Linked DNA regions of Homo sapiens: region 2 is linked to region 1. The links come from fine-mapping of genetic effects on gene expression. A gene starts in region 1. The other region holds a variant in brackets. All regions are shown on one strand. Distances are between the middles of the regions.

Region 1 (5,517 bases):
TTTTTTTTGTGGCGGAGTTTTGCACTTGTTGCCCAGGCTGGAGTGCAGTAGTGCGATCTTGGCTCACTGCCGCCCTGACCTCCCAGGTTCAAGTGATTCTCCTTCCTCGGCCTCCTGAGTACCTGGGATTACAGGTGCGTTGCCATCACGCCCGGTTAATTTTTGTATTTTTAGTAGAGATGAGGTTTCACCATGTTGGCCAGGTTGGTCTCGAACTCCTGCCTCAGGTGATCCGCCCATCTCAGCCTCCCAAAGTGCTAAGATTATAGGTGCGAGCCCTGGCTCCCGGCTGTAATATCCATTCTTAATCGCTATTTTTGATGAAGCAATTTTTTTATTAAAAAACTTGGTGTACTTTAAATATTTTCCTGGTGTTAGCTATGATAGGATTTGCCATGTATCTTTCACCCTTTTAGTTACCCCATGGGTTGTTTTGTGAACCTGCCTCACATTTTCTGTGCATGTCCTTGAATGTTGTAGAATCCTAGGAGGGTCGAGAGTGGGTTCTGAAGAGCTTCCCCACGTACCTCCATTCAATTCAATGCTAGCCTTTCCCCATGGAGTGGAGGCCTTTGGACTTCTCTTGCCACCAGAGTGGACTTAGGGAACAGGCAGTTGGCATTTGAGGTCCTCATGCTAAACTTAGAGCCTAGCACTCCCTTGAGCAAGCCACCTTCTCCCCTGTGCCTCCCATTTTTTTCCCTAAGGTGAGTGCTCCTAAGTCTGTGGAGGTGCTCCCCTGCTGTTTTCTCCAGGGTCCTCAGAGGCCCCCCCCCTTTTTTTTCTATAGTAGGCTGACAGAGCAAATGGTTCCAAGGGTGCCTGGGGCCAGCCTCAGAGCTGTGGCTGCAGCTGTGAACCCAGGCTGTGTCAGAGGAAGCTTGGCTTAAGTATAAATAACCTTAGCAGAACTCAAGGTCCAGTCACCTGTGGAAGAGAGGTGAAACTCGAAATGCAGTGCCCACTCCCTCTCCCTCCTGAGATACATAAACACAACTTGGTGTTGAAATTTGAGATGGTACAATGGGAGTGGGTGTGGTTTAGGGAGAGTTGTATCTGCCCTGCATAGATTTGGGGGCCTGATGCAGTGGTCCAGACAGACCTGAAATCTGATTCCAGTGGGACTTCTGGGAAAGTGGCTAAACCTCTTAGCCTGTTCCCACCTATAAAAATGAGGAGACAGAAACCTACCAAATAAGATTCCTTCAAGCATTTAAGTGATGCAGCACTCAATCAATACCAGCTTCTGTGTGTTCACGCTAATTTCTATTATCCATGGACTAGAGAAGATAGGATGGGGGTTTGATGGATGCAGAGGAGAGGGAGGGGGGTCACAAAGGAATGATTACCGGAAGGTGATAAGAGCTATATCTGTACACCATGGCTAAGCTGTGACAAGAAAGCAGAGAGGTGTAAATGCCAGGGTGGGAGGTGAGAAGCAAGGAGATTGGGGGGAAAGCCAGGGCCAGAAATGAAACGTCCCTGTCCTGTGTGTCATGCTCCTGGAAGCTGGGCCTCCAGCTGGGTATGACAGCCAGTTTTTCATGTGAGCTTCCCCTTCTAGGATGAGGATCCACAGAGCTAGCAACCTTGCTGAGCTAGATACTAAGCAAGAGTCCTAGAAGCAGGTCCCATTATCAAGCCAGATGGGAGTAGGTTCTGGTACGGCCACTCTGTTCCGTGTTCCAGAGGTATCCAGAGTCCAAGGGGTGGTCTGCACCCCCGCTCCTCCATCACTCTCTCCTTTGTGTACTTGTCTCTCCAATGAGATGGTTAACTCCCTTGGGAGCAAGGAATTATCTGTCGCCCCTCTTCTTGTGTCTAGTGTAGTGCTCTGAACAATGGGTTTCAGTTAATTAAGCAAACATAAATGTATTCTTCTGGAGCACAGTGTTTTCCTCTGCTCATTATATGATACCACTTATCCAGAAGTTCTTTCCAAGAAAGTCCAGACAGCTCCTGGGGAGAACAAAGTGCCAGGTGTGAGAGGGCAGGTCCTACAGAATTGTTGCTTCCGGCCACAGAGTACTTATGCTAAAACATGTAAAAGTATTAAAATTAGGGCAGTGTGGTTATTACCATTTTACAGTTGAAGAAAGTGAGGTTCAGCCGGGTCACAGCTTGTACATGGACTCCTGGGTGCAGTGCAGTCCTGGGTGCAGTGCTCTTTCCACTTTCTTGACCCAGAGGTCTGCTTCCTGCCCATAAGCCAGGCCCTCCAGCTGGATGCCCGTTCCTCAGAAGCGGCCCTTTGTCCCACCCTCCATCATTCTGCATTCCCATTCTGAGCACCTACTGTGTGCCAGAACATTTCCAGACTGTGATGCTGGCTGTGAGAGGGCAGAGAGCAAGGTGAACACGGGTCAGATTCCCCCAAAGGGCGGAGGTGATGGGGATTAGTTTATGGAAGTCCTTTGGTGCCTAGCACTTGGCTGGACACTGTAAAAATGCCTCTGTTAGCCTGGGAAACCTAGCGACATCCAGTCTCTTGGAAAGAAAAAAAAAAAAAGCCAGGCATGAAGGCGTGTGCCTGTGGTCCCAGCTTCTGGGGAGGCTGAGGCTTGAGCCCAGCCCTGGAGGTTGAGTTTGCAGTGAGCCGTGATCGCGCCACCGCACTCCAACCTGCGCGATACTGCCAGATCCTGTCTCAGAAAAAAAAAAAAAAAAAAAAAAAAAAGCCTGTTACCCGGGAGGAGAGCTCCTCGCCCGACCTCTACCCTCATGAAGAGAGGCTCAGAGGGCTGAAGTGCCTATTTGGCCGAAAGCCGTGGCAGAGTGGCAAGGCAGGGCCAGGGGAAGCGGCTCCGCCGCCGGGGCCGGGCCCCTGTTTGGCCGGTGCCCGGTCCTTAGCCTGAAGGTGGCGGGCTTCCGCCAGAAGCCCCTGGCGGAAGCGGTGCCCGCGTGCGGGCCAGAGTGTGGGTGTGCAGGTCTCTGGGCGGCCCAAAGGGGGTGCCCCTGCCTGGTAACCTAGCGGGAGGGTGGGGACGGCGGGGAGGGCGGCGGGCGCGGGGCACGGCTCCGCTGCTCAGGGCAGGCTCCGCCCCCAGGGGCGCGGATTTAAAAGGATCGAAGGCAGCCCCGGAGCCCAGCGGCCGGGAAGCGCGCCCGAACGAAGCCGCGGCCCGGGCACAGCCATGGCCCGGCGGGCGGGGGGCGCTCGGATGTTCGGCAGCCTCCTGCTCTTCGCCCTGCTCGCTGCCGGCGTCGCCCCGCTCAGCTGGGATCTCCCGGAGCCCCGCAGCCGAGCCAGCAAGATCCGAGTGCACTCGCGAGGCAACCTCTGGGCCACCGGTAAGTCTTTGGGGACGGAGCAAGCAAGCGCCCCTCATCCAGTTCAGACCCCATTTCCTTCTCAACCCTCTGGCCGCTCCTCAGCCACGGACACTAGTGTCGGAGCAGGTGGAAAACCCTGGGGCTCATCTAATTTAATAGATATGTACTTGAGACCCGGACAGGTCAGTGACTTGGCTAAGGTCGCGCAGCCAGTTTAAGACAGGGCTGGGCTAGATCCTAAATCCCACTGCCAGCCGGTGCCCCTTACCTTAGGCGAGACTTAACCGAATCTTCTAACCGCTGGTGTGTTTTTGCTGCACCTCCACTTTCCAGGCGCCTCTTCACTCTCCACTTCCTACCCTGCCCTTTTTCGTCCCTTGTCCAAGCAGCCCACACAACTAGCAGAGTTTCTCCCTGGCCCTGGACCATCCCACCTTCCTGCCAGCTGTGCCATCCTCTCTACCTGTTCAGGAAAAGCTGAGGGAGCAGGCTTTGCCACCACCCAGACACCTTTGTGGCTCCTTGGTGAGGTGGAAGCACCAAGAGGAGGAAGGTTAAGTGTCTTCCCGCTACAAGAACGGAAACGTGGGAGAGATGAGGAACTTTTCCTCTGAGGTAGGATCCTGGCTGCTTGACTTCCTTGTGCCTGGACACCTCCTTTCCAGGTCACTTCATGGGCAAGAAGAGTCTGGAGCCTTCCAGCCCATCCCCATTGGGGACAGCTCCCCACACCTCCCTGAGGGACCAGCGACTGCAGCTGAGTCATGATCTGCTCGGAATCCTCCTGCTAAAGAAGGCTCTGGGCGTGAGCCTCAGCCGCCCCGCACCCCAAATCCAGGTGAGCCGGGCCCCTGCTCCAATGTCAGGAGGGCCCAGCTGGGGCCATCCCCGGATCCTGCATGGGAGGAATTACCACCCAGTACTGTATTAGGGTGTGACTGTCTGACTAGGACATTATGGGTGTGGACCCCAGAAAGCCAGGTTTCCAGGCTTTTCCCTCTTGAGGCAGAGCTCAAAGGAGGAACAGTCCAAAGAAAGGAAGCTGACCTTCCCAGTAGACCCCATGGGGCAAGAAGTAGGGAAAGAAGTTCCCCTGACTCATCACCCAGTCTAAAGTAACAGACTGGGATCATCAGCCTTTTGGAGCAGGACCTTTCTCCCCCAGTCTACACAGTCTTGTCCCACCCATGCTGTTCCCTGCTGCATTAGTCAAGTCCACCTTTGCTGTGTCCTGTGTATGCTTGTGGCCGGAATGGGACCCTGAGGCCCAGAGAGGGAAAGAGAAGTCAGCAGCCAAGACAGAGTCTGGACCTTGTTCACCTGGACTGGAGCTCTTCCCATTCTCTCATCTGCCTCAGTATCCAGTGGTAGGGTTTAGCAACTTCAGTACATTTGACGTTCTAGGCTGAATCACTGTTTCTTGTGAGGGCTGACGTGTGCATCATGGGATGTTTGGCAGCATCCCTGGTCTCTACATACTAGATGCCAGTAGCATCTTTCCCCCCCATCAAGTTGTGACAACTGAAAAGACCTCCAGACATCACCAGATGTCTGCTGGGGGAGAGGGCCCCAAATCATTATTGGTTGTCAGTCACTGATCTATGGGATTCAAGACTCCAAAGCTGGAGCCAAGCTAGCCTCAAGGTATAGCCCCGCTGAGTGGCAACTCCTTCATTCCCTGCTCCTGGTGCTGTCCTTACTGCACACCACCCTCCCTGGTCCTGCTGCTGTGTGCAGAAGGCAGTGTGATGTGGTAGAATGTGGGTTTTGACTACAACGTGCTGGGCTCATAACCTAGCTACTTAGTAGCTGTATGACCTTAGAAATGTCCCTTAACTTCTCTAAAGCCTCAATATTCTTCACCCATAAAATGAAGATAATAAGGCCCATCTCCCATTAAATGAGACCATTTATGTCAAATGCTCAGCATGGTGCCTGGCTCATAGACAGCCCTTAGTAGATGCGAGCTCTTATCAGTCTGTGAGCTCCCTGGCGGCACCTGTTGTAGACTCGCCTTCATATCCCCCAGTGTGCCTAGCATATAGTGTGTGCATTTTGAAGGGAGAGGCATTCCCTAGAAAAGGTCCAACCCAGCCTCAACCAACATCCCTGACTTCCTGAGGCACAGAACCAGCAGCCCCTGAGGACCTCAGATGTAAGGCCTAGGAGCTTGGGCTGGCTGAGTCTGAAGGGAAACAATGTCACCTCTAATGCCCTTGGTTTTGAAGCTCTGACACATGCAGA
Region 2 (5,000 bases), 31 kb before region 1:
ATCAAGTCCTAAATTTTGGAATGATTGTCTCATCGGCACTAATGATCTGGAAGGGGTTAATGGTAATAACTGGAAGTGAAAGTCCGATTGTAGTGGTGCTCAGGTAACAGTTTTTCCTTTCAAGGCATGGAATTGCATGGCATTACTTGGGAGAAAAATTGAGATATGAAATAACTGGCATATCATTCTCTTAGAAACTACTCTTTTCCAGAAAAGGGCCTGGAAGAAAATTAGTCACTACTTATCAGTTGTAAGAAATTCTCAGGCTGGGCACGGTGGCTTATGCCTGTAATCCCACCAATTTGGGATGCTGAGGCCGGTGGATTACTTGAGCTATGGAATTTGAGACTAGCTTGGGCAACGTGGTGAAACCCTGTCTCCACAAAAAATACAAAAATTAGCGGGTGTGGTGGCATGGACCTGTAGTCTCAGCTACTCGGGAGGCTGAGGTGGGAGGATCACCTAAGCCCTAGAGGTTGAGGCCTGCAGTGAGTTGTGATTGCACCACTGCACTTCAGCCTGGGTGACAGAGCGAGACCCTGTCTCCAAAAAAAAAAAAAAAAAGAGAGAAAAGAAATTCTTACTTTGTTAGGCATTTCCATTCAGAACTCCAAAGGGCTCATGACCTTTCTACAAAAAAGTTACCATGTTAAGGTTTGTTTTTGTCACATCCCTTAATAAAGTGTCTCGTTGTACTTTATTTTCCTGAAATTCTTCTGTCTTTTTATATTCCTCATTTTGATACACCAGGCCTGATATTTAGTTGTTAGTTCATTAGATGTTATAGTACTTCCACAAATTAAGAGTTTTTCTGTAGCATGTTCTCAATGTCAGGATAGAATCATCACTAATTATTTCCAAGTTTCCTGCTGACCTTTAAATATCACTTCTAAACTAGACTCCAGGAATTTTGAAGGCATTAATACCATCTCTTATGGTGACAAATAGTACTGAATTTTTTTTCTCCACTCTGCTTCCTTCCCTATCTTTGCACTCATACTCTTAGTGAATATTTTTTTTAAAGATGGGGTCTCGCTCTGTTACCCAGGATAGAGTGCAGTGGCGCCGTCATAACTCACTGCAGACTCCACCTACCGGTCTCAAGGGATCCTTCCATTTTAGCCTCCTGAGCAGGTGGGACTGCAGGCCTGCCCCACCATGCCTGGTTAATTTTTTAATTTTTTTGTAGAGACGGTGTATTAGTCCATTTTCATGCTGCTGATAAAGACGTACCCAAGACTGGGCAATTTACGAAAGAAAGAGGTTTACTGGACTTACAGTTCCACGTGACTGGGGAGGCCCCACAATCATGGCAGAAGGTGAAAGGCAGGTCTCACATGGCGGCAGACAAGAGAAGAGAGCTTTTGCAGGGGAACTCCCCTTTTTAAAACCATCAGATCTCGTGAGACTTATTCACTGTTACTAGAACAGCACAGGAAAAACCTGCCCCATGATTCAGTTACCTCCTGCTGGGTCCCTCCCAAAACACGTGGGAATTCAAGATGAGATTTGGGTGGGGACACAGCCAAACCGTAGCAGATAGGATCTCACTGTGTTGCCCAGTCTGGTCTTGAACTCCTGGGTTCAAGGATCCTCCCACCTTGGCCTCCCAACATGCTGGGATTACAAGCATGAGCCACCATGCGCAACCACTCTTAGTGATTTTAAAACCTAATTTAGTAACTCATTTTTAGAGAATTACCACTTGGTTGTTTGACTGAAACATTATAGGCTGGGTGTGGTGGCTCACACCTGTAATCCCAGCACTTTGGAAGGCCAAGGCGGGCAGATCACTTGAGGCTAGGAGTTCGAGACCAGCCTGGCCAGCATGTTGAAACCCCATCTCTACTAAAAATACAAAAATTAGCTGGGCGTGGTGGCAGGCGCCTGTAGTCCCAGCTACTCAGGAGGCTGAGGCAGGAGAATTGCTTGAACCTAGGAGGCGGAGATTGCAGTGAGCGGAGATCGCTCCATTGCACTCCAGCCTGGGTGACAATTGAAATTTTGTCTCAAAAAAAAAAAAAAAAAGAAAGAAAAGAAACATTACAGTTTTGTCATATTTTGGGCTTAATTTTGTAAGCCCAGATCTTTTCTGGAGATAATGGAGTGCATATTTAAAATAAATGGAATTATTAATATTATCTAGAATCTAAATAATAGTGCATTAACATTATCTAGAACCTAAGTAATAGTACTTAGATTACTCTTTTTTAACCAAATTATCGAGATATGATTGACATACAAAAAGCTGTACATATTTAATGTATACAACTTGATCAATTTGCAGGTAAGTATATTCCTGTGAAACCATCATCACAATCAAGCAAGTGAATATATTCATCACTTTCAAAAGTTTCTTCCCTTTCTATTTTTTTGTGATAAGAACATTTAACACAGGGCCTCCCTCCATCGCCCAGACTGGAGTGTGCCATCACACTTGGCTAATTTTTTTTTTACAGAGACTGAGTCTTGAACTCCTGATCTCAAGTGATCCTCCCCCCTCAACCTCCCAAGTGCTGGGATGATAGGCTTGAACCATCGTGCCTGGCCCCCAGTTTCTTTTCTTTTCTTTTTTTTCTTTTCTTCTTCTTCTTTTTTTTTTTTTT[TTG/G]AGACAGAGTCTCACTGTATTGCCCAGGCTGGAGTGCAATGGCGCAATCTCAGCCCATTCAACCTCCACCTCCTGGGTTCAAGTGATTCTTCTGCGTCAGCCTCCTGAGTAGCTGGGATTACAGGCGTGCGCCACCATGCTCACCTAATTTTTGTATTTTTAGTTGAGACTGGGTTTCACTGTGTTGATCAGGCTGGTCACGAACTCCTGACCTCAGGTCACCTGCCCACCTCGGCCTCCCGAAGTGCTGGAATTACAGGTGTGAGCCACCGCACCTGGCTGAGATTTTTTAAAAGTCCCTCAGGTCATTCCAATGTGCAGCAAAATTTGAGACCCACTGCCATATCCCTTTACATAGAGGGAAGAGAGTCTTTAAACAAAAGTGTTTGGAGTTTGTACTTATTCCTGCGTTGAACTTTATTTCTTGTCTTTCTATTCTTACTTAAGCTGTTGTTATAGAAAACCGGAGCTTGAGTTTCTGAAAAAGACTGATGGGCTACTTCTTTATAGATAAAAAGGGGTTCATAAATTAGTGCAAATATCTTAGGACCTTTTCAGCACTTGGCGTAGGATGGAAGAGGTAAGAGGTAAGAAGATACTCTGTAGAAGTTAGTCTTACTTGTTACCATGGAATTGAATCTTTTCCTGGCTTCGGAAATTCTTAGGCAAAAATCTCTGCTTATTCCTTGGTTTTCTTTTTTTCTCTTTTTAAAATAAGTAAATTGATAACACAAGCTTTATCTCTGTAGCTGGCTGTTCCTTGACTTGATGAGCCATTTTTCCTTCTAAATGAGTTGAACATATAAGGTCATCTTGGCTGTTATCTTTATAAATGGCAGAGGAAGATGATCCAGTTCTCATTTGCATATCTGAATATGTTTAGTGTTTTCAGATGAAGTGAGAATAAGGGCATTGTTTTAAAGTTCATTCTTTTATATTCTGTTTGTCATTTGAAATTTTAAAAGGTTAAGGAATTAGTAACACTGACCTTTTCAAGATTTAAGCTTCTTTGACTAGTGATACTTGAAATGGAACTAGTTAGTGAAGGTTAATAACTAAAAAAAAATCCTTTGGCGTAACTTTTTAGTCTGAGGAAACCATATTTTGAGAACAATACACATTTCTGTTGATATAGTTGTTAGGGTATTGAGTATACTCCCAAAGTGATATTTTTTATTTTGTTGAATATCTAATTTTGAAAGTACATTTAATCTCATACTTTCTTTTTGCTGTTATATTCTTCTTTCCCTTCCAGTGGCAGCATGGAACCTGCATTTCATAGAGGAGATCTTCTCTTTCTAACAAATCGAGTTGAAGATCCCATACGAGTGGGAGAAATTGTTGTTTTTAGGATAGAAGGAAGAGAGATTCCTATAGTTCACCGAGTCTTGAAGATTCATGAAAAGTATGTGCAAAGTATAGCATCTTTGTTTCTAAGTGCTTTTGTTTAAGTGTTTGTGGTATTTAGTTTTGATAGCCTAAAGATTGTAAAACAGTGAGGAACCTCTAGGCCTTCTTCCAGTCCATTTTTATGAATGCTGGAAAGTTTAGTGAACATTTTGAAAACTGTAAATAATTATTTATTAGTTCATTTCTTTCCCTGAAGGTTTTTCCAGAGGTTTTTCTTTGTTCCCTTTTACTTCCCAACCTGTCAGTGACTCTGTATATAATTCCAAAAAACTATGACATAAAGATAGATCCTAAATAGAATCTTCTGGTTGGGCACAGTGGCTCACGCCTACAATCCCAGTACTTTGGGAGGCCAAGGTGAGAGAATGGCTTGAGCTCAGGAGTTTGAGGTCAGCCTGGGCAACATGGTGAGACTCCTTCTCTATTAAAACAAAACAAAACCAAAAAAGGCCAGGCATGGTAGCTCACGCCTGTAATCCCAGCACTTTGGGAGGCCGAGGTGGGTGGATCACCTGAGGTCAGGAGTTCGAGACCAGCCTGGCTAACATCGTGAAACCCTGTCTCTACTAAAATATAAAAATTAGCCAGGTGTGGTGGTGGGCGCCTGTAATCCCAGCTACTTGGGAGGCTGAGGCAGGCGAATTGCATGAACCTGGGAGGTGGAGGTTGCAGTGAGCCAAGATTGCAGCACTGCACTCCAGCCTGGGCGACAGAGCCAGACTCCATCTCAAAAAATAAATAAATAAATAAATAATTAGCTGGGCGTAGTGGCATGTGCCTGTAGTCCCAGCTAATTGGAGGACTGAGGTGGGAGGATTGTGTGAGCCCAGGAGTTTGAGGCTGCAGTGAGTCGTGTTTGTGCCACTGCACTCCAGCCTGGGCGACCGAGTGAGACCCTGTCTCAAAAAAGAAAAAAGAAAGAAATGAAAGAAAAGGGAGGCATCCTGTATGACACACAGACGAGAAGTGAAAGAGTAGGCAT

Alleles and levels. Positions count from the first base shown, and alleles are read on the strand shown. Sizes are in standard deviations (SD) of each study's normalised expression.
For the expression in monocytes after Pam3CSK4 of the gene that starts at base 3,088 in region 1, allele TTG in region 2 goes with a lower level than allele G (large effect, 1.0 SD a copy in Quach 2016).

Evidence for each region. PIP is the estimated chance that this variant, and not a neighbour inherited with it, causes the effect. A credible set is the group of variants that fine-mapping cannot tell apart.
Region 2: its variant is the best candidate, but not a certain one, in a credible set for the expression of NMB in monocytes after Pam3CSK4 (Quach 2016, PIP 0.67).

Annotation. Positions count from the first base shown.
Region 1 is chr15:84,655,770-84,661,286 of GRCh38, reverse strand. It overlaps NMB (neuromedin B), which reads left to right and starts at 3,088. Exons shown (of 3, transcript NM_021077.4): 1 at 3,088-3,291; 2 at 3,939-4,111. The coding sequence starts at 3,135. RefSeq lists a silencer at 2,973-3,132.
Region 2 is chr15:84,686,638-84,691,637 of GRCh38, reverse strand. It overlaps SEC11A (SEC11 homolog A, signal peptidase complex subunit), which reads left to right. Exons shown (of 6, transcript NM_014300.4): 2 at 1-103; 3 at 3,864-4,013. Among named protein-coding and RNA genes, the nearest start is that of SEC11A, 27 kb to the left of the region's middle. RefSeq lists an enhancer at 4,651-5,000. The variant TTG/G (reference allele first, on the strand shown) is at 2,607.